Homo sapiens: one gene and its partners. The protein of the gene in region 1 purifies or fractionates together with the protein of each later gene. This does not show direct contact. Each region holds a gene or a part of one and is shown in the gene's direction. Other genes may lie near its edges. The genes, in order: PTH1R, SLC12A9, FAM118B, FADS1, ATP11C, SLC47A1 and SLC12A4.

What was found.
Region 2: the proteins of PTH1R (region 1) and SLC12A9 purify together in Homo sapiens (affinity purification with mass spectrometry; 2 studies listed by BioGRID and IntAct, with this or other methods). This does not show direct contact.
Region 3: the proteins of PTH1R (region 1) and FAM118B purify together in Homo sapiens (affinity purification with mass spectrometry; 2 studies listed by BioGRID and IntAct, with this or other methods). This does not show direct contact.
Region 4: the proteins of PTH1R (region 1) and FADS1 purify together in Homo sapiens (affinity purification with mass spectrometry; 2 studies listed by BioGRID and IntAct, with this or other methods). This does not show direct contact.
Region 5: the proteins of PTH1R (region 1) and ATP11C purify together in Homo sapiens (affinity purification with mass spectrometry; 2 studies listed by BioGRID and IntAct, with this or other methods). This does not show direct contact.
Region 6: the proteins of PTH1R (region 1) and SLC47A1 purify together in Homo sapiens (affinity purification with mass spectrometry; 2 studies listed by BioGRID and IntAct, with this or other methods). This does not show direct contact.
Region 7: the proteins of PTH1R (region 1) and SLC12A4 purify together in Homo sapiens (affinity purification with mass spectrometry; 2 studies listed by BioGRID and IntAct, with this or other methods). This does not show direct contact.

Annotation. Positions count from the first base shown.
Region 1 is NC_000003.12:46,901,619-46,905,317, forward strand, and holds the end of PTH1R (parathyroid hormone/parathyroid hormone-related peptide receptor precursor), read left to right. Parts: intron 1-147; coding exon 148-242; intron 243-907; coding exon 908-1,049; intron 1,050-1,130; coding exon 1,131-1,172; intron 1,173-1,651; coding exon 1,652-2,038; 3' UTR 2,039-2,181; downstream 2,182-3,699.
Region 2 is NC_000007.14:100,862,170-100,865,688, forward strand, and holds part of SLC12A9 (solute carrier family 12 member 9), read left to right. Parts: intron 1-511; coding exon 512-658; intron 659-3,117; coding exon of another isoform or gene 3,118-3,155; exon of another isoform or gene 3,156-3,190; coding exon of another isoform or gene 3,191-3,216; exon of another isoform or gene 3,217-3,380; intron 3,381-3,519. UniProt on the Homo sapiens protein: May be an inhibitor of SLC12A1. Seems to correspond to a subunit of a multimeric transport system and thus, additional subunits may be required for its function. May play a role in lysosomal ion flux and osmoregulation.
Region 3 is NC_000011.10:126,217,771-126,222,390, forward strand, and holds part of FAM118B (protein FAM118B), read left to right. Parts: intron 1-4,620. UniProt on the Homo sapiens protein: May play a role in Cajal bodies formation.
Region 4 is NC_000011.10:61,802,831-61,807,450, reverse strand, and holds part of FADS1 (acyl-CoA (8-3)-desaturase), read left to right. Parts: intron 1-726; coding exon 727-787; intron 788-2,689; coding exon 2,690-2,766; intron 2,767-3,683; coding exon 3,684-3,781; intron 3,782-3,991; coding exon 3,992-4,088; intron 4,089-4,339; coding exon 4,340-4,419; intron 4,420-4,524; coding exon 4,525-4,620.
Region 5 is NC_000023.11:139,730,049-139,734,668, reverse strand, and holds part of ATP11C (phospholipid-transporting ATPase IG), read left to right. Parts: intron 1-2,143; coding exon of another isoform or gene 2,144-2,233; exon of another isoform or gene 2,234-2,234; intron 2,235-2,913; coding exon 2,914-3,015; 3' UTR 3,016-3,018; intron 3,019-4,620. UniProt on the Homo sapiens protein: Catalytic component of a P4-ATPase flippase complex which catalyzes the hydrolysis of ATP coupled to the transport of aminophospholipids, phosphatidylserines (PS) and phosphatidylethanolamines (PE), from the outer to the inner leaflet of the plasma membrane.
Region 6 is NC_000017.11:19,564,407-19,569,026, forward strand, and holds part of SLC47A1 (multidrug and toxin extrusion protein 1), read left to right. Parts: intron 1-116; exon of another isoform or gene 117-223; intron 224-2,383; coding exon 2,384-2,453; intron 2,454-2,689; coding exon 2,690-2,822; intron 2,823-4,620.
Region 7 is NC_000016.10:67,951,312-67,955,931, reverse strand, and holds part of SLC12A4 (solute carrier family 12 member 4), read left to right. Parts: intron 1-1,158; coding exon 1,159-1,289; intron 1,290-3,506; coding exon 3,507-3,748; intron 3,749-3,894; coding exon 3,895-4,109; intron 4,110-4,620. UniProt on the Homo sapiens protein: Mediates electroneutral potassium-chloride cotransport when activated by cell swelling. May contribute to cell volume homeostasis in single cells. May be involved in the regulation of basolateral Cl(-) exit in NaCl absorbing epithelia.

The DNA of each region.
Region 1 (3,699 bases):
CCACACTCCAGCCCAGAAAGGAAAACCAAGGGCTCAAGGAGCCACCCAGAGATGCAGTGACAGAGCAGAGCCTATGGCCGTGGCTGCCAGGCCTTGCCCCGCCCCACTAGGGTGCAGCCTCCAGACGCAGCCCCCTCACTCCCACAGCTCAACTTCATCCTCTTCATCAATATCGTCCGGGTGCTCGCCACCAAGCTGCGGGAGACCAACGCCGGCCGGTGTGACACACGGCAGCAGTACCGGTGAGCCCACCATGCCTGCCATGCCCTGGCTCCTCAGGGGTCCCTGAGTCCTGGTACCATGTACCCCAGGAAAGACAGTGGCCCCATGAATGATCCTGGGGCAAGGGAAAGGACCCAGCGTCTGACTCCCTGGCTGTCCTCACCCACCTGGCCTGCCCAGCAGTGATGGGAGGCCCTAGGGCACCCCAAAGCCAGCCTGCCCACTTGTACCAGGCCCTGCACTAGAGCTGGAGTCTGTGAGTGTGCAACGAACTTGAACCTCTCCTCAAAGAGTTGGTTGCAGGGGGTCTGAGGAACAGGTAGGCGGTGAGTGGCCCCGGGAAGGCTGCAGCTCAGCTGAAACCTGAGGAGCGGACTGTGGGATAGTGAGGTTCGACCGTGGAGGGGAGTGCTTGCCAGCTGAGGGCTCCACAGGTGCGAAGGGCCCAGGGACAGGGGGACTGTCATTTGAAGTCCGCTCCGGGACACCGCTGAGAACCAACGGGCCCTATTAGCACTTAGCCAGGACAGCAGCCATGCAGGTGAACTGGGTTGTCCTCCCATGGTGACTGGAGCCCTGGGCCCCTTTGAGCTTCCGGAGCCTGGGGCTCGCAGGGTGGGGGGTGGCACAATGCTTGTTGAAGGGGAAGTGGCTTGGCCCTGACCTACCTGCCCCGCTGGCCCAGGAAGCTGCTCAAATCCACGCTGGTGCTCATGCCCCTCTTTGGCGTCCACTACATTGTCTTCATGGCCACACCATACACCGAGGTCTCAGGGACGCTCTGGCAAGTCCAGATGCACTATGAGATGCTCTTCAACTCCTTCCAGGTGCGCAGTGCTGGCCCGGGCCTGGCTGAGGGTGGGAGGGGTTCCGGGGGCAGGCCTGATTCGAGACACCCCTCTTCACAGGGATTTTTTGTCGCAATCATATACTGTTTCTGCAATGGCGAGGTAAGCAGGAGACAGTGTTGGCATAGGGCAGGGTGGGGCAGATACCCCAGAGGCTTCCTCAAGGCTCATTTCTCCATTCTTCCACCCTGTTATTTCTTTGTTCCTCCAAGAACACCCCTGAGGACATTCTGAAAGCAGAGAAGTCTTTCCAGATGATGCAGGTTCAGGATGTGCTAGGATGTGGGGACTCTTCAGTCACTGGCATAGCCAAGTGTCTTCCCAGCCCCATGGTTCAATTATCTGTGACCCAGATTGGAGGACTCAGCCACCTTTGGGGCAATTTGAGCCTTGTAGATTCTGGGTGTGTCGGCTGCCTGTAGCCAAACACCCTGTTGTGAGGATGGGATTTCACTTGGCCTTGGAGTTTCCCAGGAGTCCCCTATTCCCATTTTCATTCCGTGCTGGGTGTCCAGGGGCCGGGATGGGGCATCGCTGGGGTTGGGAGACACACCTGACTGCCGCACCCTTACTGCCCCAAGGTACAAGCTGAGATCAAGAAATCTTGGAGCCGCTGGACACTGGCACTGGACTTCAAGCGAAAGGCACGCAGCGGGAGCAGCAGCTATAGCTACGGCCCCATGGTGTCCCACACAAGTGTGACCAATGTCGGCCCCCGTGTGGGACTCGGCCTGCCCCTCAGCCCCCGCCTACTGCCCACTGCCACCACCAACGGCCACCCTCAGCTGCCTGGCCATGCCAAGCCAGGGACCCCAGCCCTGGAGACCCTCGAGACCACACCACCTGCCATGGCTGCTCCCAAGGACGATGGGTTCCTCAACGGCTCCTGCTCAGGCCTGGACGAGGAGGCCTCTGGGCCTGAGCGGCCACCTGCCCTGCTACAGGAAGAGTGGGAGACAGTCATGTGACCAGGCGCTGGGGGCTGGACCTGCTGACATAGTGGATGGACAGATGGACCAAAAGATGGGTGGTTGAATGATTTCCCACTCAGGGCTGGGGCCAAGAGGAAAAACAGGGAAAAAAAGAAAAAAAAAAGAAAAAGGAAAAGGAAGCGGTGTGTGGCTTCCTGTGGCCCAAACTGGGGACTCACTCCGAGAGGGTGGGGCTGGGAGCCAGGGAAAGCTGTGGCGGGAGGGCCATGAGTCATGGAGGAATCCTCAGGTCTCACTTCAGAATGGGGAGGGATCTGGGGCCTGTGGTATCCAGCAGAAAGGGCCCAGAGTGGCTCAAGTCTGCAGGGGTCACACAGCAGCCAAGTGGACCCATGTGGAAATCCAGCCTCAGCCTCCGTTGCTGCCAGCTGTGGAGCTGCTCTCCACACTTGTACCTAGACCCCATGGGGGACCCAGGCTCCTCTGGGCCAACTCTTCTGACTGCTGCCCCCATCACTGCCACCCAGGGCTGCTGGCAGATCCCTCGGGTCCCTGGCCACACCCCCAAGCCTACGGCCCTGCCACAGAATGGACCTTTCCTGGCTGTCCAGTGGCCACTCAGGGAGCCCTCCACGCAGGAGCCTTAGCATCCACCCGTGACCTGACATGCCTCTGTGACTGAGGTTGCAGTAGGAGCACCAGGCCAGCAGGTGAAGGGTGGGCTGGGTCCCTGCTCTGGCTCAGGACTTGTGGGGAGCCAGGAGTCTGAGCCCAGAGGGCTGGCTGGGCAGGGGCCTGCAAGGTGGGACACATCCATTCACTATGCATCTGGGACAGTCACTAAGTGTCCTCACCTGACACCCACCTACCACCTTACTCACCCCCCCGGACCGTGCCCTCTCCCACCTTGGGCCATTCGTGGGCCCCAGAGTGGCACAGAGCCCCTCAGCCCGACACCCTGAGGACTGACCCTACAGCATGCCCACCCCGGGCTCTGGCCTGAACGAGCTTCTTGCTCTTGCTCCAGCCTAAAGACAGCCCCGCACGAGCCCTGCCCTGCCTTCCCATCTCCCGCTCAGCCCGTCTTACTCTTCTCCACGGACTCGGCATCCAGGAGTGCACCTCATCTCCAGCAGCCCACACACACCCCATAGGGCATAGGGGAGGGGTCAGGAGGCCCAAGACAAAAAACTCAGGTGGGCGTTAGGAGGTGTGGGTGCCTGCTGAGCAGCCCCACACCCAGCCCTGCCTGCCCTTCCAGATGACGGACAGGACCAAAGGCTGTCCAAGGGCCTGGTGCACCCGTGGAGCTCCATGCAATGGTTGAGGGAGGCATAGGCCAGTCTTGAAGGGCTGCAGAGCCAGGCTGGGAGCCACTGGAAGTTCAAGAGGGAGAGCAACAAGGTCTGAATGTTTAAAAAGTCCCCACAGCAATGTGGAGACGAGAGGAGGCTGCACAGGGGTTGGAGAAGAGGTGGCCTGGCAGGAGGCGGGTGGCCTCGCAGGGAGATGGTGACAGGGAGGGCAGCAAGAGTTAGCTGGGGGAAGGAGACCTCAGCAGGGCAGACCCTCATCCTCCTCCCCAGGGATGTCCGATGCCACTCTCTAGGGTCTGAACTGAGGTTTCTGAAGTAATAAGCCAATGAGGCCCACTCACCTAGAAGCATTCAGACTGGGCACCCCGCAACAGGGCTGTG
Region 2 (3,519 bases), on another chromosome or scaffold:
TAGTCTCGAACTCCTGACCTCAAGTGCTCCGCCCATCTCGGCCTCCCAAAGTGCTGGAATTGTAGGTGTGAGCCACCACGGCCAGAACCCCTCCCCCGCTTTTTTTTGAGACAAGGTCTTGCTCTGTCACCCAGGCTGGAGAGCAGTGGTGCCATCATAGTTCACTGCAGCCTCAACCTCTTGGGCTCAAGTAATCCTCCTGCCTTGGCCTCCTGAGTAGCTGGGACTACAGGTGTGTGCCACCAGGCCTGGCTCATTTGTAGAGATGAGGTCTCTTTATGTTTCCCAGGCTGTCTGGAACTCCTGGCTCAAGCAGCCCTCCCACCTTGGCTTCCCAAAGGGCAGGGATTACAGGCATGAGCCCCGACACCAGCCCCTCTGCCCCTTTTATCCTTTCCCATGACCCCTCCAAGTAGCCATAGCCCTGCCCAGGCCCGTCTGTGATTTGGACTCTAGGAGACATTGAGTTTGGACAACACTGGCTACCTTCCTTTCCTTATCTTCTCTGTAGACTCCCTGCCCTCGGACCCTGTACAGCCGCAGTATGGGGCATGGCTCAGCCTGGTGGACCGTGCCCAGGTGAAGGCTTTTGTGGATCTAACCCTCTCACCCTCCGTGCGCCAGGGGGCTCAGCATCTGCTGCGAATCTCCGGCCTCGGTGAGCTGCTTCTCCCTGGATGCCCTCGGCCTTCCTCTGTGGCCACTTCAAATCTCCGCTCCCCTCCCCTAGAGAGTCAGCCACAGATTGCAAACTGCAAAAGGACCTTATAGTCGAGAGGAGATAAGACAGTGCTCAAAGATAATAGCCTCAGACAGTGTGTGATAAGGTCTAATAGGAGATGCTAGGGACTAGTGATGGGGTGGGCGATGTTGTGGGTTTTTTTTCCTTCTTCTTTTTTTTTTTTTTTTTTGAGACGGAGTCTCACTCTGTCTTGCCCAGGCTGGAGTACAGTGGCACGATCTTGGCTCACTGCCTCCTCCACCTCCCAGGTTCAAGTGATTCTCCTGTCTTAGCCTCCCAAATATCTGGGACTATAGGCATGTGCTACCATACCTGGCTAATTTTTGTATTTTTAGTAGAGATGGGGGTTTCACCATGTTGCCCAGGCCAGTGTCGAGCTCCTGACCTCAGGTGATCTACCCGCCTCGGCCTCCCAAAGTGCTGGGATTACAGGCATGTACCACTGTGCCCAGCCTTTCCTTCTTTTTTTTTCTGATCCAAAAATTGGGGCATAGGCACTGAAGAGTGTATTTTTGGAGACAATGGAGCATTATTTGAATCTCCAGCTGCCTCATCAAATCAGATGGTTTTTAACCACCAGTGTTCAGAGGAAGGCAGGCCAGCCACTATACACTGATGTGGCCAGCAAAGGTTTTGCGGAGAGATGGTAATTCATCCAGACTTTGAAAGAGGTTGGGATGTAGGAGATGTAACATGTCTCCCCTGCCCCCGCCACCCAAAGCCACAAAGGATGCCGGAGGCTGTGTGGGGCGGACGTCTGTGGATGGAGCGGTAAATTCTCAGCTTTTAGCGCTGAGGCCACCAGGGTTATCTATGCTCAGTCACTGCCTTTTCCCTTAATCCTGGACCAGTGCCCGTCACCAAAGTGCATGCTTCCTTCTCTATTCAGAGTCTGGCTAAAGTTCAACAGTGTTGGACATTGCCCAGTTCAGTGTAAATCAGAACCCTGGGAAATACTGAGGAGGGGGCATGACTAGTTTATTTTGCAAGATCAGCTGGAATTCACACCTGCGGAGATGTTTTGGGGTGTCGTCAAGCATCATTGACCCACAGAACATCTGAGAGCCTGGTCTTCACTTTTTGTGCAGAGACCACAATGCTTATGAAATACGAAATTTTTCCTGTGGAAGATATCAGGTCGGTGCAAAAGCAATTGCGGTTTTTGCCTTTTTTTTTTTTTTTTTTTGGACAGGGTCTCACTCTGTTGCCCAGGCTGGAGTGCAGTGGCACAATGTCAGCTCACTGCAACCTCTGCCTCCCGGGTTCAAGTATTCTCCCATCTCAGCCTCCCAAGTAGCTGGGACTACAGATATACGCCAGCATTGTCCGGCTAATTTTTGTATATTTTTGGTAGAGACGGGGTTTCACCATATTGCCCAGGCTGATCTCGAACTTCCAACCTCAGGTGATCCGCCTGCCTCAGCCTCCCAAAGTGCTGGGATGCCATTTTAATGGGGGAAAAAAAGAACCACAATTACTTTTGCACCAACCTATTCCAATAAAAGGAAAAGTAGTTCCTTTAAATGGTGGATTCTCCTGTCATAGAAAATTTGATTTATGGCTTGAGCAGTGTTTGTTTCATGAGAAGGGGTCTTGGAAGAGGTCTCTGCGTCTCCCTGTAAACTCAGCAATTATCCGATTCCACAAGGGTTGTTCAAAAATTAAGAACGAAGAGCTTGTCAGCAGGGACTTGGAGCATTGTGGTTGCCACGTGCCCAGCTCGGTGGCTCAGAGTGTGGCCTCTCACGCTGGATGGAGGCGGATTGCGTTGACCTACCTGCCCCAGTACCTACCAGATATGAGCCTATGGGCAAGTGACTTCATCCCTTGGTGCTTTGGGCTCCTTATCAGTAAAAAGAGGAGACTAAATATTACCTACCTCATAGCATTACTTCGAGTTTCAAATAAGTTAAAATATAAAGTGCTTTCTACAGGACATAGCCCCTGGTAAGCGGATACCATGCAATGAACCACCATGATTAGGGTTTTGGTAAAACCTACTAGGGTTAGGGTTTACTGCAGTAAACATACGGGGTAGCCCTGTTTCTTTTTTTCTTTTTTTTTGAGATGGAGTCTCGCTCTGTTGCCCAGGCTGGAGTGCAGTGGCGTGATCTCGGCTTACTACAACCACCACCTTCCGGGTTCAGGCAATTCTCATGTCTCAGCCTCCTGAGTAGCTGGGATTATAGATGCCCACCACAATGCCCGGCTAATTTTTGTATTTTTAGTAGAGATAGCATTTCACCGTATTGGCCAGGCTGGTCTCAAACTCCTGATCTCAGGTGATCAACGTGCCTCAGCTTCCCAAGATGCTGCGATTACAGGTGTGAGCCACGGTGCCCTGCCTGGTCCATTTTTTCATCTTCCCATTGCAGAGTCTGGGACGCTATTACCCTGGGGATTCAGGTCATGAGCTTGGCTGATCAGGGTGTCTGGTTTGCACAACAGAGTCAAACTCGCATCCCCTGCCGTGAAACAGATGCCCCGCTAGAAGCCGGGAGTGGACAGCATCCTCCTCTCCATAGAATTGGAGTGCTCATTAGTGGCAAGAATCCTAAGGCGAACTTTGCCTGTTTAAGTGGAGGAGATTAGTCACTGAGATAATAAAATAAATGCATGTGAAAGTGTTTAGGAAAAATGAAAAGTCTTTATGCAAATATGCAGAATGTTGCCGTAAGAGCCCGTACACAGTGGGAATGTCATACCTATGGCTGACGCACCTTGCTGTCAGTGTGTGGGAGCGTGGTGTAAACTTAGCCTGTGAGCCTGACTCCTGT
Region 3 (4,620 bases), on another chromosome or scaffold:
AAGTATTTGAATGACCTGGTTTTGCCCACACACTTGTTTGATAGTTTGGCAGTTATATAATTCTAGATTGGAAATAAGGTTCTCTCAGAATGTTGAAGGCATCTGTAATTGCTCTAGAGATGTGGTGATTTAAATCCTTCTTACGTGACCGTATTTTGTTTGTTTTCTCCCCTTCTGGAAGCTTTGAGGATATTCTCTATCTCTGGTGTTCTGCAGTTTTATGATGTGTATTAACACCAGGGTATGGGTCTTTTACTCAGCTGTTGTGCTGGCTTCTCACAGACGGTTTTGATTCTGGAAATTCACGTCCTCTAGTTCCGGGATGTTTTCTTGTACTATTTCTGTGATTTTTTGCTCAATCTTTAATTTTTCTTTGATACCTTTTTGTAATATCCATTCTTGTTATGTGGATATGGTGGGCTCAGAGGGCCCGCTGGAGTATTTGAGTTTTCTTCCTCTCTGCACAGGCTCCACTTCCTTCAGGTGATGTGGGCCTTTGCACCTGTGCCTCTGTCTGGATGTGTCTTCCCTCAGATATCCAGCGACTTGCTCCCACACCTCACTTTGGATGAATCCACAAGTCTTTCCTTAAATGTCACCTCAGTGAAGAGAGCACTGGATTGAGAAGTGCAGACCCCCATCTCACTTCCCTGCTTTGTTTCTCTCCAGAAGCATTTCCCACCATCTAGCATCCCACATATTTATTTACTTGTTTCCCTCACCACTAAAATAAACATTCTATGAGGGCAGGGATTTTGGGTTTTTTTTTGTTTACCTCTATAATTCCAGCCTCTGAAACAGTGCCTGGCGATGAATAGATGCTTAATAACTTAAGGAATAAATGAATTATTTTATTGTGGGATTTCTTTGAATGTCTCATGATTCTGACTGTTCATTTCTGTTTTGTTTTTTGTTATTTTAAGTTCCCAGCGTGGGTCTTGTTGGGTGGTGGCCATTACTATAGGGTGGCTGGTATATATGGATTTTGTGTGTATGTTTGTACAAATGTATATGTTTGCTAATATTTCTTTAGCTGACAGTGCATTGGTTGCTGGGACAAGGATGGAGGCTTGGAGAACCTTTTAGTATGCATCTTTTGACATAATCTGTATTTTCAGTTCTTCATTGCTCCTGCTGATGTATTTTACTCCAGACCCATTTCAGATTTCGGTTCATTTTTCTTTAAACCTCTGGATTTGGGGGTGGAGAAAATAGATGAAAATAGGAGGTGAGGAAGAGAATTTGCGCATTAGTTAAATAGACTTTATGCCAATCCGTATTTTCAGATCTGCATTTAAAGCTTGCTTTCCATCTCCAAAAATTCATTGAAAAATTGAATGCTTATCTCCTGCACCTCACATTCTTGGTTTTATACCTTGAAAAAAGAAAAACTCCTCTGTTGCCATTTTAATAGCGTACTTTGAAAAAGATTAAGAAGTAAACACGTAAGGACAGAAGTTATCATGTTTTATATTCTTAGTGTCATGGAATGCAGCACAGGAATATCACATAAGGAAAAGCACAGATTTCTTGTTTTCCTCGTTTATTTTGGAAGCTTATCCTTCAGCTCTTGTTTATCTTTTTTTTTTTTTTTTTTTTTTTTTTTTTTTTTTTTTTTTGAGAGTCTCTCTCTGTTGCCCAGACTGGAGTGGGCATGATCATGACTCACTGCAGCCTCGACCTCCTGGGTTCAAGCAATCCTCCCACCTCAGCCTCCCAAGTAGCTGGGACCATAGGCATATGCCACCACATCTGGCTAAGTTTTTTATTTTTGTAGAGACAGGGTCTCCCTATTGTTTATATGCCTTAAGAGTCAAATTAACAGAGTACATAAGAAACACTCTCTTTTTAGCTCTCTTGCTAAGGAGCAGGTTTGAGATCTGTTGCCAGAACTTAGTACTTCGCAGTTTTATGGATTCCTCAGGAGTCTCGTCCATGGGGCTGGGGCGTGGCTACCCTCTGCTGACTCTTCCTAGGTTCCTGCTCTTCCCCAGCACCTCCCTACCCCCAGCCACTAGAAATAGACTGCTTCTTTCTTTCTTCTACTGCAGAAAACATGCACTACTGTACTTATTAAAATTAACTTAAAAAAAAAAAAAAAGCAGCTCGAGCTGCTTGAGTTTTTTTTTTAAGTTAATTTTAATAAGACATTGAAGGAAGAATTTTTTTTAAAGGGGGGGCTTATATGTATGGAGATTTATGGTGTGAAAGCAGGGGCAAACTCTAATGAATGAAGTTTTTAGAATTGATATGAACATGAACCCAAGATACTCAGACTTATTCCGAGAGTTCCTCTTAAAAACTGCTTTTCTCCACATAAATCCGAATGTCAGCAGTGGTTAGCTCCACGTTGGAGGAAGGGGGGCTTCATTTTGCTCTTTCTGCATATTTCCTGCAGTGATCTGTTACTTTCAAATCTGGGGGAAAGGTGCTCTCTTTTTCTGAATGAAGTCTCCACCTGCCTCCCTTGGGCCCAGGCTGCCCAGCTTTCTGGCTGCTCCCTGAGAGTCCTCCTTGGTCTTCCACTGACCTCCTTCACTTCCTTATGAAAGTATGTTTTTAGTCTCCCTAACCTGCTTTCTGTTTTCTCTCTCTCTCTTTTTTTTTTAATACCCTCAATTGTTTTCACTGGCCACTTTTTTTTTAAGACTGATGCTTGGCTGGGCTTGGTGGCCCATGCCTGTAATCCCAACACTTTGGGAGGCCAGGGCAAGAGGATTGCTTGACAAGGCCAGGAGTTCAAGATCAGCCTGGTCAACATAGCAAGAGCCCATCTCTACAACAAAATTTAAAAATTAGCCAGGTGTGGTGGTGCGCACCTGTAGTCCCAGCTGCTTAGGAGGCTGAGATAGGAGGATCCCTTGAGCCCCAGAGTTTGATGCTGCAGTGAACCATGATCTTGCCGTCCTGGGGAACAGAGCAAGACTGTCTCAAACAAAAAAGACTGATGCTACCTGCTTGGCAAAACCATGTTTTTAGAGCTATTTCTCCTAAGAAACCTGGTCTTTGTAGTTGTTCTGATGGCTTCTGTGACAAATAATGCCTTTTTTTTTTTAAGAGCTTTCAGATTCTTATTTCAGATCTAAACAGTGCTTTTCAGCTCTCAGTTCATCTTCAGATCAAAGAGAATAGTAGGCCGGGCGCAGTGGCTCATGCCTGTAATCCCACCACTTTGAGAGGCCAAGGCATGTGGATCGCTTGAGGCCAGGAGTTTGAAACCAGCCTGGCCAACATAGTGAAACCCTGTCTTTACTAAAAATACAAAAATTAGCCAAACATGGTGGCGTGGGCCTGTAATCCCAGCTACTTGGGAGCCTGAGGCAGGAGAATAGCTTGAACCCGGGAGGCAGAGGCTGCAGTGAGCTGAGATCAAGCCACTGCACTCCAGCCTGGGTGACAGAGTAAGACTCCATCTCAAAGAAAAACAATATTAATTTTTGGCTAATTTTTATTAGGAAAAAGAGAATATCCTGAAAAGAATATCATGCTAGTTTAAGGTTACAGATTTACTTTCTTCCCTGGGTTCCCTTTGGTTCATATTCTCTTGTTTAGAAATGATCCAAATACATTATTCTGAAGTATATGACAGTTTTTCCAAAATCAGTAAATACATATGTTGGTGCTTAAAACAGAAAGAAAGAAATAATGGCCTATAAATATTATCACATAGCTTATTTCTACTATTCAGAGATCTGTATAACTTAGGATAAGGAGCAGGTTGTTGAACGGTTTTTTGGTTTTTAAGTTTGAAGTACAGTCTGAAAGTACCTTTCAATATTGAAGGGCTGCCTGACTGAAACTTACATGGCTATCTCCTGGGCCTGAAGCACCACCGAGATCTGAACTGAAGGTAGCGTTTTGGGAGTCCTTAGCGTTTAGTTGGTATTTTAATATCTAGGGGTGAATGGGGTGGGAAGGGAAGGGAGTATGTAAAGGGAATAGACTGGAGAGCCCTGCGGATCCTCAGCATTTAGGAAACAGGGAAGACCTCCCACTAGAGGGGAGGGAGGAAAACCAGGAAAAGGCAAGATGGACTTCAGTGTTGGGTGTTTCAGGAGGCAGAGGAGGATAAACACCAACAATTTCATTGAATTTTGCCATAAGGGTATTTATCTCCCATAAAGCTTTCCTTGATTTTCCTCAAGCAGAAGTGCTCATCTCCTTGGTACCTCATCCAGGCATGTGAAACTTGGCACAAACATGTTGTAAAGGTTTGTTTATAGTTCTGTTTCTCCAAAGGTGTAGACTTGTTAAGAGTGTGGCCCACGGCTTGTTCGTTTTTGTGAGATGGTATTGTTTTGTGTCTTAACAACATGAACACTGACTCCATGTCTAATGTGTAATAGTCGTGTGACCTTTAACAAGCTGCTTAACATCTGTGTGCTTCTGTTTCATTGTCTATACCATTTATGATATGAGATGATAATAGCATCTACCTCACAGAAGAGCAGATATTTGTGAAGTGTGGAAAACAGTGCCTGGCTTACTGTCAATGCTATGTAGTGTTTGGTGGAGGAGAACTGGATGCAGCAATACTAATATTCTTAGCACAGTGCTGGATGTTTAACAGATATTTGAACGTGAAGATGTAGTAACCTGTGATGAATTCAGTTCCTAGCA
Region 4 (4,620 bases), on another chromosome or scaffold:
GCTGGATATAGAGGGAATACTTAACCTGTATAGGGGCAGATATGGTTGTCCATGGAGATTCTGGTGTGAAAAAGTACGATGGCGGCCGGGCGCACTGCCTCACACCTGTAATCCCAGCACTCTGGGAGGCTGAGGTGGGTGGATCACCTGAGGTTGGGAGTTCAAGACCAGCCTGAACAACATGGAGAAACCCCATCTCTACTAAAAATACAAAATTAGCTGGGCGTGGAGGCACATGCCTGTAATCCTAGCTACTTGGGAGGCTGAGGCAGGAGAATCGCTTGAACCCAGGGAGGCAGAAGTTGTGGTAAGCCAAGATCGTGCCATTGCACTCCAGCCTGGGCAACAAGAGCGAGACTCCGTCTAAAAAATAAACAAAAAAGTACGATGGGAGAAAGGGGAGAGGGCAGTGGGGCCTGGAAACCTCATGACAAAGAGAATGAACACAAGAGGGCCTGTGGTCCTGTAGACTCTGTGCTGTGCACATCCCTCATGTGAGCATGGGCCATCCAGCTGCAGGCCATGGTGTGACACACTCTGCAGATTACAGTCTAGGGCTTCATGTTCCATGTGCTGGAGGTAAGGCTGGGCCTCTTGGAGCTTTCCAATAGCACCAACAAGCTGTCAGCCCTGGAGGAGGCCTAAACCTCCAAGCAAGGAAAGGTCAAGTCACAGAGGGAGGAATCACTGGTCTCCGAATGCTCATGTGTTTGCTTTTCTTCACAGCTTGGGAAACAGAAGAAAAAATATATGCCGTACAACCACCAGCACAAATACTTCTTCCTAAGTGAGTGTCCCCATCCAACACAGGGGAGCTGCCTCAGGAGGGAATGCTGAGGGAATGAGGAGGATGTGGCTGTCCAAGGGATTATGGTATTTTAAGGAAAGGGGCTAGAGGAAGTACCCCACTCCCACCCCCAGTTACTCCCTGCATGACAGCAGTTTGCCATCTCAGCTGAGCGAAGTGAAGTTAGGCTGATGATTGGTTGAAGGCAAACTAGTTCTTCCCATCCAACCCCAGTTTCCACTGGGAAGCTGGGTGTTTGGGGTGTAGAGGGGCCTCTTGCTTTATCCTCAACCTTATCTTTTTTTTTTTTTTTTTGAGACGGAGTCTTGCTCTGTCGCCCAGGCCGGACTGCGGACTGCAGTGGCGCAATCTCGGCTCACTGCAAGCTCTCCGCTTCCCGGGTTCACGCCATTCTCCTGCCTCAGCCTCCCGAGTAGCTGGGATTACAGGCACCCGCCACCGCGCCCGGCTAATTTTTTGTATTTTTAGTAGAGACGGGGTTTCACCTTGTTAGCCAGGATGGTCTCGATCTCCTGACCTCATGATCCACCCGCCTCGGCCTCCCAAAGTGCTGGGATTACAGGCGTGAGCCACCGCGCCCGGCCCCTCAACCTTATCTTAAACTTTGTCAAGATGGGCCAAGGTAACCTGGTAGAGCCCAGTCCAACCCCCAGAGGAACAAAGGTACAGATAGTTCTGGAAGGATGGGTCCTGAGGAGAGAATGGAAGAGCTGTTAGAACGAAGAAGATCTTTCTGATGACTGCCACATATTCCCAGCTTTAAAAGTCTGTCCCAGCTACTAAGGAAACTGAGGTGGGACCATCCTTTGAGCCCAGGAATTTGGGGCTGCAGTAAGCTCCGATTGTGCCACTGCACTCCAGCCTGGGCAACAGAGTGAGATCTTGTTTCTTAAAACAACAACAACTCTGCTCCATAATGCCTAAAATGAGCTTTAAACGCCTTTAAATTTTCAAATTTTTTAAAGAAGGAAGGGAAGGAGTCCACTGATCTTATTTTAGTTTGAAGGAATTCATCCTAACTGCCTATCACCAACTATCACGAATAGAGAAAGGCGATGGGGCAGAAGGGTAGAGCAGAGACCTCTGGAAGAAATAGTTTTAGAATCCATGGCACATCAAGATGGAGGAGCCATGGGTGAGCATTGTCATGCTAGGAGTTATGGGTAGCATCAGGTGCCACAGAGAAGGGCTACAGAAAAGGAAATGAGGAAGCATGTAGAATGCAACACTTCTTCAACTCCCAGTTTTCTTTCAAGAGAGGCCCCTCTGTTCCGTCCCACAGCTGACCTCCAGGGCTTCAGATTGGGGTGGCACAAGCCCATCTCCCTAGTTTAAGGAAGTGAGCTTCACAGCCTGTGAAGGATCCACAGGGTCCCTCCCAACACACACACACTTTCCTGCTCCTGCCCCTTCACCTGCATGGTGGAGCTGCCAGGAACAAAGGGCAGATGACTGTAGGGACAGGGCTGTGGCCAAGGTAAGTAAGAGAGTATTAGCACCCTTTTAAAAGTGTGGGATCCTTGGAGTGTGTATGTAGAAAAGAGAAGAAAAATGAAAAATAATAAAGGTGTGGGAGCAGAGCAAGTCCCATGCGTGGGGCCTGAGTTCCCAAGCACCTGTCACTGAAGAGTGCCACTCGCACCCCTCACCTTCCCTGGCATCCTCTTGGGAGTTTTTGCCTTCCCCAGACTTGGATTTATGCCCACCTTCAGTGCCTGCTGGTTCCAGTGGATTGCAGAGCACTCAAGCACCTGGAGGGGAGACAGAAGGGATGGTTGGAAGAGGCAGCCCCCTGCTAGAGGCCATCTCTCCCAACATCAACTGGCCCTTTCATGACCTTCCTGTGCTCATGCCTCCTCTTTGTCTCGGTTTCCTCCCCAGTTGGGCCCCCAGCCTTGCTGCCTCTCTACTTCCAGTGGTATATTTTCTATTTTGTTATCCAGCGAAAGAAGTGGGTGGTGAGTATCCATGGCCCAAGAAGCCCACATCCTTGTCTCCAGCACCCAGAGTGGGGGATAGGGGTTCCCCAGGGGAAACTTGAGACTGACTCTAGGCCTAATTTAGAACAAAATAATAGAACCAGACACAGATCCTCCTTATCTCTAAGTGGGACGAAATGATTTGAGCTTAGCAGGCAGCCTGATTCCCAATGTGTAATTTCATGCGGTCAGTGTCTCCAGAGGTTCTTGTACTGGGCATAATGCCAGGGGGCTGAGTTGGGAATGGGGAAGATGAATGAGAGACAATACCTACTTTCAAGGAAACTTCTGATGAAGCAGAATGTGGTTATTAATCAGAAAAGAGGTACAGGCAATAGGTTCTGGGGACTCCAAAAGGGGCCTGACTGCACCTGGCTTTGTGAAGTCACTTTTCTAGCTGGCCTTGAGGCTGGGCAGGGTTTCTGACAGGCAGAGGTGGAGCAGGGGGGATGAACTCTGAGCAGAGAAGCTGGAAATGAGGGGTAAGTTTGACCACCAGACATATTGTGGAGGACTAGTGTCAGGGGAAGAGTATGGTGCTTGGTTCAGTGATGAGAGATTTGATCAGGGCACTGGCATGGACTGAGCCATGGTCCTGGCAGATTCATTTGGCGGCATGCTGAAGGATTTAGATTGGCTAGGAAGAGCTAGAGGCAAAGAGACCTTGTAGGCCTTGGTACTTTTGAAGGGGACATGCAAGAAGGGCTGGGGGGTGCCAATGGGAATGGAAGAAAGGAGCAGTGGCACTAGATACTGCAGGATTGGACCCCTGAGAAGCTGAAGATGAGTGAGTCTGGATAACCAGGAGAATGGCTGCACCATGCAAACAAAGAGCTGCTGAGAGGAAGAGGAAGAGTTGTTCGTGACTGTTATGCTCGCTGCTTTTCTCACTATAGGACTTGGCCTGGATGATTACCTTCTACGTCCGCTTCTTCCTCACTTATGTGCCACTATTGGGGCTGAAAGCCTTCCTGGGCCTTTTCTTCATAGTCAGGTAGTATTCGGTGGGGGCGGATAGGGACTGGTGAAGGAAATGTTGGGGAGTGACCAGTCTGGTCTAGGGGCCGTGCTGGGGCTTTGGGTAACAGTGGGTGTTTCAGGAGTTGGCTTGGGAAAGTAGACAGGCTGGAGCAGTTATCTGAGGGGGGAATCAGAATTCTGGGCTCTGTGTGTACTGTTTTTGTCTGTGTAATACATCTAACAGGTTCCTGGAAAGCAACTGGTTTGTGTGGGTGACACAGATGAACCATATTCCCATGCACATTGATCATGACCGGAACATGGACTGGGTTTCCACCCAGGTAAGGGACAGTCACTCAGAAGACTGGAGCATAACACAACTATTGAAAAGGATGCGTAGGTGAAAACAGCAAAAACAAAAAGTCCCCCAAACAGCATTTTCTCATTAGCCTGAGGCTCTTGTTCTGCAACCATGTGAAGGGAGTGACCAAGACAGTCTCATGTCCCTTCCTCAGCCAGCTTTACCTGGAGAATGCTGGGCTGGCCTTTCCATCTGATATTCAACATGCTCTCCCCTGACCTTTTCCGCCAGCTCCAGGCCACATGCAATGTCCACAAGTCTGCCTTCAATGACTGGTTCAGTGGACACCTCAACTTCCAGATTGAGCACCAGTGAGTAGGGAGCCTGGGGAAGCAGGGTCCTGGGGAGGGTGTAAGTGTTGGGTACAGGTGGGAGCAGAGAAGCAGGAACCACTGACTCCCCCGTTCTCCCTAAAGTCTTTTTCCCACGATGCCTCGACACAATTACCACAAAGTGGCTCCCCTGGTGCAGTCCTTGTGTGCCAAGCATGGCATAGAGTACCAGTCCAAGCC
Region 5 (4,620 bases), on another chromosome or scaffold:
TGAAACAGCAGGATAACACCTCAAGGAAAGGTCAAGTATAGGATTTTTGTATTTCAAAAAGTTGTGTCCCCCCTAAGCACAGTCATTGGCTGTCTGTAAATCAATGAAATATATCTGGAGTTTCTGGCCAAGTAGCAAATACCATTTCACATTTCCAATGGAGAAATTTCCACATATCCTGTGTGAAGTTTTCTCATGTAAGTCACCACAATCAAAAAGGAGGCTTAACTTCGCTGAAGCTTGACAAAGGAAGACTATAATTTAATGGGAATGCACCCAGCAACATGGCCGTGCTTAGCATGGGATGTCAGCACAAACAGGAAGAAATATTCCATTATGTAGAGAACTCTTTCAGAGTGGTAGACAGGGAAGGGAAGAATGTCAACTGTCTGAGCCAAAGTCCCAGAGAAAGCATTTTGGAAATTTTGGAGAATATAGTTAATCATTATAATAATGATGATTACTATTATGATTCTTACAGTGTCATATACAACCATGGGTTCACAGGGCAATAGCCCTGTTAGCTGGATTAGACAAAAATAAAGTTTAATCCTAATGTCGTGGCTGTTGAGATGGGCCTTTATCCATTGGCCTCTTTGACATACTGCTAATTGAGCTGGTGTCAAAGCTCTCTAGATGACTGCAAAGGAATGTGGAAATTTCATTCTGTTTTAGCTCATTATCTCCTGTTTACCCCACCCCACTGCCGGTTGCTAGCTATATCAATTTTTTTATTGCTTTAGTTACTCTTTCCATGCTTTCTCCTGCTTTCTGTACTTTCATTTCCTTTATAAAGTAGTTTTAACACCTAATCTATTAACTCCTAATATTTCTGCTTCATAGAAATACTTTTATCTCCGATGGTTGGATACAAGTGTTTGAGCACACCAAAACGTGCTTACAGTTGCAGTCTTGAATAGATAGGTTTGTGCATTAAACACGGGGGTGGGGAACTTGGTATCATGCTGATCTTGTCGCAGGGTTTTTGCCCATAAAATAGAAGATAGAAACAATTAAAATCTTTTTCTCAGAATCTAAATATTCTCTAGCTTTATCAATTGGTAATTTGCATTCTATCAATATGTCTATCAACTTTCTTCATTCCACCAACTTTCTTCATTTAAGGTAAAAACAAGAAAAAATGTAGTTGTCAAAACATGAATAAATTATTTACCTTTGAAAGTTTAATTGTTTATTAGAATCTTCTGGAAACAAATGTTACTTTAGCTGGTTTCTTTTTCTAAGCCCATTTTAGGTCACTAAGTAGACAATATGGGTAATCTTTATTAGCAGAGTTGTTCAAGTCATCCACATTGTTGACCACTCATCTTCTGTTTTGCTTGGGCAATGCCAAAACTGAGTCTGTAAATTACCTTATAATTTCAGGCACAGAATCAGAAGGAAAAAAATAACCTTAGGTTTGCCAGTTAAACTTTATCCATTTTCACTTTTCTGGGTGTTTTAAGGGGAAAAAAAATAATACCTTACCCAGGTAAAATTTAGCCTATCTTTCTAAAGAGGACTCTGTAGGAAAAACAGGGAAACCAATCAAATTAGGTTGTAAGAAAGGAAGTTAAGCATTGGTCAGAGGCAAATGGGACTGAAATGTGGTATCACCAAATGTTTTCCCATTGTTATTTTTGATTAAGTTTTTATCCTGCAACTGCTTAAGAGCAGTCAGTCCCTTCATAGTGTATCTGTACAGTTGCATAGGGGAGATAATTACTTCAAGATAGATTGGTGATTGGCAATGGACCCTGGACATAACTCTTTGACCAATGGATTTTGAACAAATGTAGGATAGTGAATTAATGATTAGAGATAAGTCTTATTTTAACGAGAAGCATATTTTAAAGCTATTTTATTTAAAATAGTCAATTTTCCCATTAACAAAATAATTTCAAATTGATATGTAGAGAAATAGTAGTTGGCACGTAATAATAGACTATTCCTATCTCTGACTCTGCTTTTACTTCAGAAAATAATGTCTTCAAAACTAACATATCATTTCGGCTTCGAATTCTCAAGTTTTCTTTTTAAATGTCTTACATTTGAGAGATTATTTACTTTTTTTTTTTTTTTGGTTTCTGCATTTCTCTTTTTTCTACTGCAATTTTCCACCTTTTGTGCAATTGTGAACAAGGTAACGAAACGCCTCCCTTCCTCAGGAACATCTGCTATCTTCATGCTTTCTCAAACTTCCAGCAATCACAGTTTCTCTTGGAGTGAATAAGGTGATTTCCTTTCTTAATGTACCAACTTGCTTGCATTCTCATTTGCCTGACACCATTTTCTAATTCTTTATGAAAAATTACTTCTCATGACTCATTTTATATCTTCTATTGATGCTTAGAGTATTTTGTCATTTTCTTTTAATCATGTGTTCACCTTCCAAATTGTCACACTGGAGAGGAAGTAATTTTTAAAAGCTTGGACTACGGGTCTGTAGTCTTCATTGATCCACGGTATGCAGTGGCCATGGCGTGTTAGAGCTAGTCTGTTCACCAGGACAGGAATGTTTTGCACAAATTTCTCTTTGTTTGATAATACGGCACCGGCACAACTCTCAGAGGTGTTCACCAAAAGGATGGTAAGGTTTACTAATCAAACCATATTGACTCATCTTACCATATTACTTACCAGTGCCATTCCAAAAACCCAAGTTTACTACATACTACTGTTGTCTGTTTACTTCTACCACAAAAACAATTCGAGTTGGAGACTTTCTTAGGCCTTTGAATGTATTCATTTGAATGTTATACATTTACTATATAGTGTAATCATTTGTACTTTTGGCCAGAGGAGTAGTCTATAGGAAATGATTTTTTTCTTTTACCTTTTTTTAAATATATAATCACCAGGTAGGTTAACCAATTTTCAAATGCTTTAAGTATCTTTGCCTCACTATTACAGAGAAATCTGAGCTGTAGAAGGGCATCTGACTCATTATCCGCCAGACCTTCAGTCAGACCTCTTCTTTTACGAACATTCTCAGACGAATCTAATGTATTGTAACAGGTACCTAGTGTTAAACAAATGGGCTGGCTTTAAAAAATCGGATTAACAGCATTATAAAGAAAAAATGAAAATATCACTCTCTAAATTTTCTCTGCTGTTGGTGTGGTGAACTTTACAATATTCTTTGCAAAAATATAAAGATGCATTACTTGGAATATGGGGAAATATGCATTTAAAATATTAAACATTAAAATATGATAAGCCCCCCAAATAAAATGTTAAACATTTTTCAGAGCCAAATGTTGATACAGCATATTTAATTTGTAAGGGGCAAGTTGTCATGGCAAGGCCACCATGTGAAAATGTTTGTTAATATTGATCAGGAAATATAACTTTGATTTATAAAGATCATTTGGAAAACTAAAAGTAAATATTCCAAAATTGCATCTGTATAATATCAAGCCAATTTAGCATTGCATGTTCTCTTGGGAATTATGTGAAAATAACTAAATGTGTTTGTACCTTCATGTGCTGTGTCTGTGTGTTTGCAGGTACTGTATACACTTATGTCCTTGTAAATGTCTGATCTCCAAATATATATCAATGAACCAGTCTAATCATAACTTTTTTAATGTCAAGTTTTATTCAAGCTAAATGTTTCAACTTTCAGAGGTAAAATATTTCATAGCCATTCAGGGGGATGCTTGCCTAATGATATAAAATGCTTTATAATTAATGTTTCCAAAAATGATTAAATTCACTTTATAATGTTTCATTTACCCCCAAAAATATTTGGGAGGAATTGATACGCCGTGGGAGGGCCCCTTGAACTCAGAATGACTCCTTTATGTATAGTCTGTATTTCCTTCAGTGGGGGCCTTTAACAACTCAGACCTCTGGAGGTCTTTTATCCATCCATAGGAATTTAGAGTAATTAATGAACAAGGCTTCCAAGCTTGTCAGCTTGGAAACAACTCTACACAGCTTAAAGCAGGGCCATCTTTCATGCACACATAAAAATTAATGATCATCATGAATACAATTGTGGGTTAGTTCACTTTGAAGCTAATAATTGCGAGTCCACCTTATAGGCCCATTTTTTTCAACAGCTGTCAACTCTGCCACCCTCTAGCAAAGAATACAAGTTAAATTAATGGATTGACTCCATTGGTTCTTCTGTCTTCCTGGAGTTCATCGCAGTCTACATCTGCACTGTTATTTTAGAAGCAGACTCATTTTGCCACAGTTAGCATCTTTTTACCCATTTTTGAACAACTTACCTGAGTATGTTTTCCCTTAGTAATGAATCTGCTTCACAAGTAACCTTCAAGGTCTTTGACCCCTTTGTCCCAGATTGCCTCGTTCTAAGCTGTGTGATGCATTTTAGCTATATTGTTTCTGGCTAATTTTGTATCCCCCTGGATTGCTCTCTTTAGCTTGGTCTGTGGTTTGGGGGACTGGGCTGGATAGAAGACACTGCTGTTGCTTTTGGCCTCTCCAGGGCCTTATCTCCTACAATGTCTAACATAGAACTGAGGAAGTATTTTTTAAAAACAATTGTCTTATTTTTAATGTAGTTATTTCTTCCAGGAATAGATTTTCATGTGGCATTATTTCTCCTCCAAAGACAATAATTAGCAGCTAGTTTAGGCATCTAGTTTG
Region 6 (4,620 bases), on another chromosome or scaffold:
GAGAATGCTGCATGTGAAATGATAGAATATAGAAAGGAAAATTAAGAATATACATTTGTATTTGCTTATATTTTCATAGACACTAGACAAACATGGAACGTGCTAGGAATTGTTACCTGGAGGAGGCAGGGCTGGTACTGGGGCAAACTGGAAGGGCATTGCAGTAAGACTTTGCTTACTATCTTGTTCATATTGTTCCATTTTTTGACCATGTGCATGTTACCTATTCAAAAAATAAAATTTGAATAAAATAATTATATTTCTGTCCTTTTTGGTGAGGAGGAAGTGATCATCTTGTTCAGTGCTGGATTTCTTTTCTTTTCTTTTTTTTGAGATGGAGTTTCGCTCTTGTTGCCCAGGCTGGAGTGCAATGGCACGATCTCGGCTCATCGCAATCTCCGCCTCCTGGTTTCAAGTGATTCTCCTGCCTCAGCCTCCCGAGTAGCTGGGATTACAGGCATGCACCACCACACCTGCTAATTTTGTATTTTTAGAAGAGATGGGAGTTCTCCATGTTGGTCAGGCTGGTCTCGAACTCACCACCTCAGGTGATCTGCCTGCCTTGGCCTCCCAAAGTGCAGGGATTACAGGCATGAGCCACCACTCCTGGGCCAGTGCTGGATTTCTTATTTAGTAATTAAACAAGTATTTATTGGGAGACAGTCTTCTAGGTTCTAGTTTAGAGTGACAAAACTCACTCCAAGGGTGTTGTGAATTTCCTGCTTCCCCAGGTCAGGGCAGCATTTTTCTCATCTCCCTTCACATGCAGAGGTTAGAATCCAAGTCTCTAGCTTTAGGGGTTCCATTTCTAGGAACCAAGGATAATTCTGCAGAATATATCTATGGCCTTTACCAACCTTCGTTCCATAGAGGGAACTTAATTTTTACTCTGTAGTGCTTCACTGAGGCTTACTAGGAGACACAGTCAGACTTGGCCTGTGGCATCATCTTAAAAGAAGGATGATCATAGCATCCAAACTTGCCGGGATGATAGGTGCGTGCCACTGTGCCCAGCCAAACTTCTTTTCAGCTGATGGGGAACGGGGGAGGGATGTCACCAAATCCCTTGATTTGTCTACACTGACCAGATGGACTATGCGGTAACCCCTCTTTATCCTTGGTTTTGCTTTCCAAGGTTTAGTCACCTGCAGTCAATTTTGGTCTGAAAATCTTTTTTTTTTTTTTTTTTTTTGAGATGGACTCTCGCTCTGTCGCCCAGGCTGGAGTGCAGTGGCATGATCTCAGCTCACTGCGAGCTCTGCCTCCCAGGTTCACGCCATTCTCCTGTCTCAGCCTCCCCAGCAGCTGGGACTACAGGCGCCCGCCACCACGCCCGGCTAATTTTTTTGTATTTTTAGTAGAGACGGGGTTTCACCATGTTAGCCAGGATGGTCTCGATCTCCTGACCTTGTGATCCGCCCGCCTCGGCCTCCCAAAGTGCTGGAATTACAGGCGTGAGCCACCGTGCCTGGTGGTCTGAAAATCTTAAGTGGAAAATTCCAGAAATAAACAATTCATAAGTTTTCAATTGCGTGCGGTTATGAGTATTAGGAGGAAATCTCACGTCCCGCCTGGGACATGAAATCATCCCTTTGTCCAACATCTCCACGCTGTGTGTGCTTTCCACCCGCTAGTTATTTCAGATTGACTGTTTTGGTATCACAGTGCTAGTAATCCCAAAGCACAAAAGTAGTGATGCTGGCATGTGGTTATGGCCTACTTTATTACTACTGTTGTTACTCTCTTACTGTGCCCAAATTATGAATTAACATTATCATAATGTATTTGTGTATAAGGAAAACACAATGTATTTAGGGTTCAGTCCTCTCTGCGATTTCAGGCATCCACTGGGGGACTTGAAACATATCTCTTGAAGACAAGGGTGTGGTGCTGCCTATTTTTTCTAAAAGCTGTGAGATACAACATGCAGTTAGTTTCCTCTATGGACCCAGCAACAGGTGAACTGTCCCTGACTAGGCTGCTGGCCTCAATGCATGTGCATGTCTGTAATATGCAGAAAGCTATATACTTTTTTTTTTAAGACAGTCTCGCTCTGTCATTCAGGCTGAAGTGCAGTGATGAGATCTCAGCTCACTGCAACCTCTGCCTCCCGGGTTCAAGCGATTCTCCTGCCTCAGCCTCCTGAGTAGCTGGGATTACAGGTACCCACCACCAGGCCTGGCTAATTTTATATTTTTAGTAGATACGGGGTTTCACCATGTTGGCCAGGCTGGTCTCAAACTCCTGACCTCAGGTGATCCTCCCGCCTCAGCCTCCCAAAGTGCTGAGATTACAGGCATGAGCCACTGCGCCTAGCCAGAAAGCTATATACTTCTTTCTCCACTTTGTCTCCTAATCACCACGTGCTTTATTTTCCTAACAGAGACATCATTAATCTGGTGGCTCAGGTGGTTCCAATTTATGCTGTTTCCCACCTCTTTGAAGCTCTTGCTGTAAGTATTATGTAGTAGTCCCCTAAGCACTGTTATGATCTTCTGATGGTGGTAAATTTCAGCTGAGAGGAGGGGCCAGCATAGGTAGGAAGATTGAATATTGTTACCACATTTCGTTTAGAAGGATACTGTCACCTTACCATGGATTTTAGCACAGAATATGAAGTGCTCGGGAGATGGGAGTGTTTCAAGAGCGCCGGATGTGTTCACAGTGATGGAATGCTCTCTGCCTGCAGTGCACGAGTGGTGGTGTTCTGAGGGGGAGTGGAAATCAGAAGGTTGGAGCCATTGTGAATACCATTGGGTACTATGTGGTTGGCCTCCCCATCGGGATCGCGCTGATGTTTGCAACCACACTTGGAGTGATGGGTAAGCTCTAACCTCTGCAGGCAGGGCTTAGCTGCTCACCAGCCCAGGAAATGACCGTCGGAGCACACGGGTCTTTGACTGAGGCTCACCTCTGAAACTCGGGAGCTCGCCCACGTCCATTCTGTGTCTTGTCAGAGAGTGTAGGGGGCGTTCAGGAGGTGACCTCCAGCTCTAGCCAGGGCCCCAAGGCTATGTGGTCCTGCCCCTCACACCCCTGCGGGCGATCTTCCACGCTGACACACTTGAGCACAGATGCCCTTTCTACCAACCTCCTATCCTGAGTCATCCAGCCCTCACTTCTCTAAAGGAGGCAACAGCAGGGACCGCTGAAGAAGCATTTGGAAGCATCCCCTTAGTGTGTTTCGTGCTGTTCTTTAGAGACAGCATGTGAGCCCCTGAGGGTGACTCTGCAGGGCCAGGGCTATCGTAGGCGGTCCTGCGTGCGTGGGGTGCTGCAGGGTCTGCACTCACGGTGGCACTCTGCATCCTAGAGCAGTGCCCCATGTGCTCACCAAGCAGCATGGCTGGATCCTTGGAGGGCAATGGGTGGCCAGTGCCCTTCTCATCACCCTCATCGCACTCCGCAGCCTCCACCTCCCTCCTTGTGCAGCCTTAGCTCTGTGCCCCCACAGAGCTCCCCACAAGGCCATACACGTGGTCGGTGTGAACAGCACAGAAGGAAGGGGGCGGACTTGAGCACCTTCCCACATTTGGAAGAAAAAACTTAATCCACAGCATCTGAAATTACCAGAGCTAATCTTTTTAAAAAGTACGGAAATAAATGACTGCCCAGCTTTGATTTCTAAAATAATAATTTGGAACATATTGGCAGTTAATAAATGATGATATGAAAACCTGGACATTTATCTTTGGGGTGAGTAGTGACTGACTTAAAGCGTGGCTTGTTTTGATTCATCTGTACTTGGCAGGCTCAGAGGTGGTGAGAAGTCAACTGATACCTACAGGGAACTTCCAGTTCAGTATGTTCCTTTATGTGGCACATTTTTCTCAAGTTCAATAATATTTTAATTAAAAATACAGGAGTTGTTCAAAGAATAGTATTGCCAATGCAAAGTTCATTGGGCTTGCATGATAGTGCAGAAAATTATTTAGCTGAGTTTCTGGTGCGATTCATAGTTTGGATTTGCCAATTGCCTAGCTAATGCAAATATTATAGAAATCTAATTTATTTTTATTTTTAAAGTAATGTATTTTATGTAACACAATATGTCTAAAATTATTGCAACGTGCAATCAGTATAAAATATTAAGGAAATAATTTAAATTCTCTATATTATATCTTTTAAACTTTAAATTGACAAATTATAGTTGTATACATTTATGGGGTACAGTGTGGTGTTTTGATATATGTATAAAATGTGGAATGATTAAATTAAGCTAATTAACATACTTATCACCACTTATTTTTTATGGTGAGACATTTGAAATTTACTTAGTTAATTCAAAATGTGCAGTACATTGACTACAGTCACCCTGGTGTGCAATTGATCTCAAAACTTATTCTTCCTGTCTATCAGAAATTTGTACCTTAACAACTCCCCATTCCCATGCCCTCCCCTCCTTGCCACCAGTCCCTGCTAACCATCATTCTACTCTCTACTTCTATGAGTTCAACTTTTTTAGAAGAGGAGTCTACTTTATTCTCCTGTTTCATTTTTTACAGATGGGGTCTTGCTATGTTGCCCAGGCTGGTCTCAAACTCCTTGACTCAAGTGATCCTCCCACCTTGGCCTCCCAAGTATCTGGGATTACAGGCATGAGGAACCTGCTTTGAAATA
Region 7 (4,620 bases), on another chromosome or scaffold:
GTGCTGGGATTACAGGCGTGAGCCACTGTGCCCAGCTGACATTTTTTTTTTTTTGAGACGGAGTCTCACTCTGTCGCCAGGCTAGAGTGAAGTGGCATGATCTCGGCTCACTGCACCCTCTGCCTCCCAGGTTCAAACGATTCTCCTGCCTCAGCCTCCTGAGTAGCTGGGACTACAGGTGCACACCGCCACGCCTAGCTAATTTTGTATTTTAGTAGAGACGGGGTTTCATCGTGTTGCCCAGGCTGGTCACGAACTCCTGAGCTCAGGCAGTCCACCCATCTCAGCCTCCCAAAATGCTGGGATTACAGATGTGGGCCACTGCACCCGGCCTTTTTTTAAAAATGTATATTTTTATCATTTCCTTTTTTTAGTAGAGACGGGGTCTCGCCATGTTGCCCAGACTGGTCTGGAACTCCTGAGCTCAAGCAATCCACTCACCCCAGCCTCCCAAAATGCTGGGCTTACAGGCATGAGCCACCACGCCCAGCCAAGATTGACTCTTTGAAAGAATTTCTTGATCCCTGTTCCCAGATTTTCACCAGAGACATTGTCTCAGCAGCAGATACAACCAGCAACATGAGATGACTCTTGTCCCCCTGTGCTTGTCACCCTGGGGCCTGGTCATGACTCTCTGAGTCTTTTAAGGGTGTTAGACTTTGATAGAAGCACAGATTCAGGGCAGGGAGCCGTGGACACTCACCTGGTGGCAGGCACTGTGCGGGGCCTTAGGGCCAAAAGGCTGGATGAGACAGTCCCTCCTCTGGTCTGGAGGAGTCAGACTAACAAAGGCACAGGCCTCAGGAGGGTGAGGTGGGCTGAGATAGGACACACCCAGCCAGAGGAGGCTGTGGGCTGTGCACAGGGCATTGGAGGATGGTGGCCAGTCAGCCACTGCTGCAGACTAGAGCTGCTCCCGCAAAGCAGTTATTTCCACGGGCCGTGCTGGACATTCGAGTCAGATGGGGATAGGATCGAATGTCAGCCTAGATGCTTACCCACCGTGCAGCCCTGGGTAGGTCTCCCAGCCCCTCTACTCATCCACAAACAGGAAAAGCAGTCCCTGTCCCTCTGGGTGGTTGTGCAGGCTTGTCACAGGGAGACCCCTTGAAGAAGAACCAGCCTTGACCTGTGCACACTTTCATTTCTCTGCTGTAGCTGGGGGCTCCTATTTCATGATCTCTCGTTCACTGGGGCCAGAATTTGGAGGTGCTGTGGGCCTGTGCTTCTACCTGGGAACAACATTCGCAGCAGCCATGTACATCCTGGGGGCCATCGAGATCTTGCTGGTGAGTCAGGCTGAGCCCTGGCCAACTCTGGCCATGTCCAAACAGTCCCTTTGGACTCCAAACAGAAGGCTCAGGCTGTTCATCCCCACATGTCTGGCCAAGGCCTGGGTATTATAAAGTAGGAAGCCTCTTCGAGAGACAAAGACCTTTACTCAGGCTGGTCTTCCTTTCACCTCCATGCCAGTTTGGGCCAGGCAAGGCAGAGGCCTGGCTGCCTTCACCTCGGCCCTGGATGTTCCATCCACCTGGGCACCATTGCAGCCATGGCAAGGGTTCCAGGAACTGTTGTATTCAGCTCAGTGACAGATCTTGGTGGTGATGTAGGCTTCCTTCTGGGCTTGTGTGAGCTCTGGCCAGCTCTGTGTCCTCCGGGGCTCTGTGCCAGGGCACTTCAGATCCACCTTCTCCTTGTCCTTCAATCAGGGTAAGCAGCCACAGAACCCTGCTGGAGGTCGGCGCTCCCTCCACGAGCCCCATGGGAGCTCTGTCAGCCTCAGCTTCTCATTCCCCAGTGAACTGCCGTACCAGTGGGAGAAGAGGCAAGGAGCTGCGGGAGGCATGGGGTGACAGGTGCCCGCCCCTGGGGATCCAGAGGGTAGGAGATACCTGGAGGGACTGCCTGGCTGTTCTTGTCTCCAGGTCCTCTACCTGCAGCAGGACCCTGCACCTGAATCTTCTGATTTGGGGGGGCTTTGGCTTGTTTTCATTTCTCATATCCCTTCTACATTCATTATGTGGGATTTGTCCCTTCTCCTGTTTATCTATTCAGCCATGTCATTATATCTGTATGGACTTCTGGATATTTACTTTATTCTTTGGGTTGTAATCCAATACTATCATTATTTATTTTCTTGCTCAAACTGTTCCACTTTGGCTATTTAACGATTCAGGTTGGCATCTATGTTTGGATCCTTTTTGTTTGCTTGTTTTTAAGTAACAGCTTTATTAACATATAATTTACATACCATGCAATTCCCATACCAATTTATATACCATTGAAAGTGTACAATTCAATGTTTTATAGTATATTCACAGAGTTGCGCAGTCAATTCTAGAACATTTTCATCATCCCAAGAACCCCCATTAGCAGTCACTCTCCATTCCCCGCCAGCCCTGGCAACCAGGAATCTGCTTTCTGCCTTGGGATTTGCCTATTCTGGGCATCTCATATAAACAGAATCATATAATATGTGACCTTTTGTGACTGGCTTCTTTTAGGTACTCTTATTTTTTATTTTTATTTATTTATTTGTTTTGAGATGCAGTCTCACTCTGTCGCCCAAGCTGGAGTGCAGTGGCATGATCACAGCTCACTGCAATTTCCGCCTCCTGGGTTCAAGTGATTCTCCTGCCTCAGCCTCCCGAGTAGCTGGGATTACAGGCTCATGCCACCACGCCCAGCTAATTTTTTGTATTTTAGTAGAGATGAGGTTTCACCAAGTTGCCTGGGGTTGTCTCGAACTCTTGAGCTCAGGCAGTCGGCCTCCCAGAGTGCTGGGATTATAGGCATGAGCCATTGCGCCCGGCCTATTCATTTATTTTTTTGAGACAAGGTCTCACTCTGTCACCCAGACTGGAGTGCCGTGGTGTGGTCTCTACTCACTGCAACCACCACCTCCGAGACTGAAGTGATTCTCCTGCCTCAGCCTCCCGAGTAGCTGGGATTACAGGCGTGTGCCACTACTACCAGTTTTTGCACCACTAATTTTTGTATTTTTAGTAGAGATGAGGTTTCACCATGTTGGCCAGGCTGGTCTCAAACTCCTGACCTCAAGTGATCCACCGCCTCAGCCTCCCAAAGTGCTGGGATTACAGGCGTGAGCCACGGCGCTGACCTATTTTTTATTTTTTTTTGAGACGGAGTCCCCCTCTGTCACCCAGGCTGGAGTGCAGTGGTGCGATCTCTGCTCACTGCAACCTCTGCTTCCTGGATTCAGGCGATCCTCCTGCCTCAGCCTCCAGTTGCTGGGATTACAGGCACGTGCCACCACGCCCGGCTAATTTTTAGTAGAGATGGCGTTTCCCCATGTTGGCCAGGCTAGTCATGATCTCCTGACCTCAAGTGATCCCCCACCTCAGCCTCCCAAAGTGCTGGGATTACAGGCGTGAGCCACTGCGCCCGGCCTCTTTTAGGTACTCGTAAAAAGAAAACCAAAACGACAAGTTTCACTTTCCAAATAAGAAATAAAACCCTCCTTATCCATCTTCTTGTTTCAGACCTACATTGCCCCACCAGCTGCCATTTTTTACCCATCGGGTGCTCATGACACGTCGAATGCCACTTTGAACAATATGCGTGTGTATGGGACCATTTTCCTGACCTTCATGACCCTGGTGGTGTTTGTGGGGGTCAAGTATGTGAACAAATTTGCCTCGCTCTTCCTGGCCTGTGTGATCATCTCCATCCTCTCCATCTATGCTGGGGGCATAAAGTCTATATTTGACCCTCCCGTGTTTCCGTAAGTAACCCAGGAATTTATCTGGGCATTGCATGGACATCCCTCCCATGTAGCCAGCCTTTGATGCCCCAGATCCCAGAGACTGCAGGGTGGGCACAGGCAGGGGCTTTGACCTGAGCAGGTGCCGGTGCTTCTGTCCCTCACAGGGTATGCATGCTGGGCAACAGGACCCTGTCCCGGGACCAGTTTGACATCTGTGCCAAGACAGCTGTAGTGGACAATGAGACAGTGGCCACCCAGCTATGGAGTTTCTTCTGCCACAGCCCCAACCTTACGACCGACTCCTGTGACCCCTACTTCATGCTCAACAATGTGACCGAGATCCCTGGCATCCCCGGGGCAGCTGCTGGTGTGCTCCAGGGTGGGTCCTCCCTCCCGTCGTCTTGCTCTTGAGCCCACAGGCTGAGCAGGGGCACAGAGCACAGAGCTGTCCTTGTGTGGCCAGCTTGGGAACGGGGGCAGGACTGGCCGCCTTCCCAGCCCCCCAGTGTCCTCCCAGCCTGGCTCCTGGCAGCCGAGTTTGGAGTGAGTGGAGCCTGTCTGGCCAGCGTCCAAGGCCTGCAGCAGCCTGTCTTCCCCAGCCACCAGCCCCTGACACTGCCTGGGGATGTTCCCACAGGATCCATAAAGGCCTCTGTGGAAGGCGGGCAGTGGCGGGCTCTGGGTGACGGTGGTTCAGCCACCTTTGTCTGTCGACTTCTAGCTGGGCAGCTCCTTCTCTGTGGTCAGGGTAGCCCTGTGGCTGACGCTGCAGTCATTGGGCTGAAGCTGTTCCCTGAGTCCCCAAAGTTGCCCTGCATCTGCGCCTCTGGCTAGGCTGCCCCAAACTACCTGGGGTAGTGGGGGGCAGCTGTGGTGGTGACACAGCTACC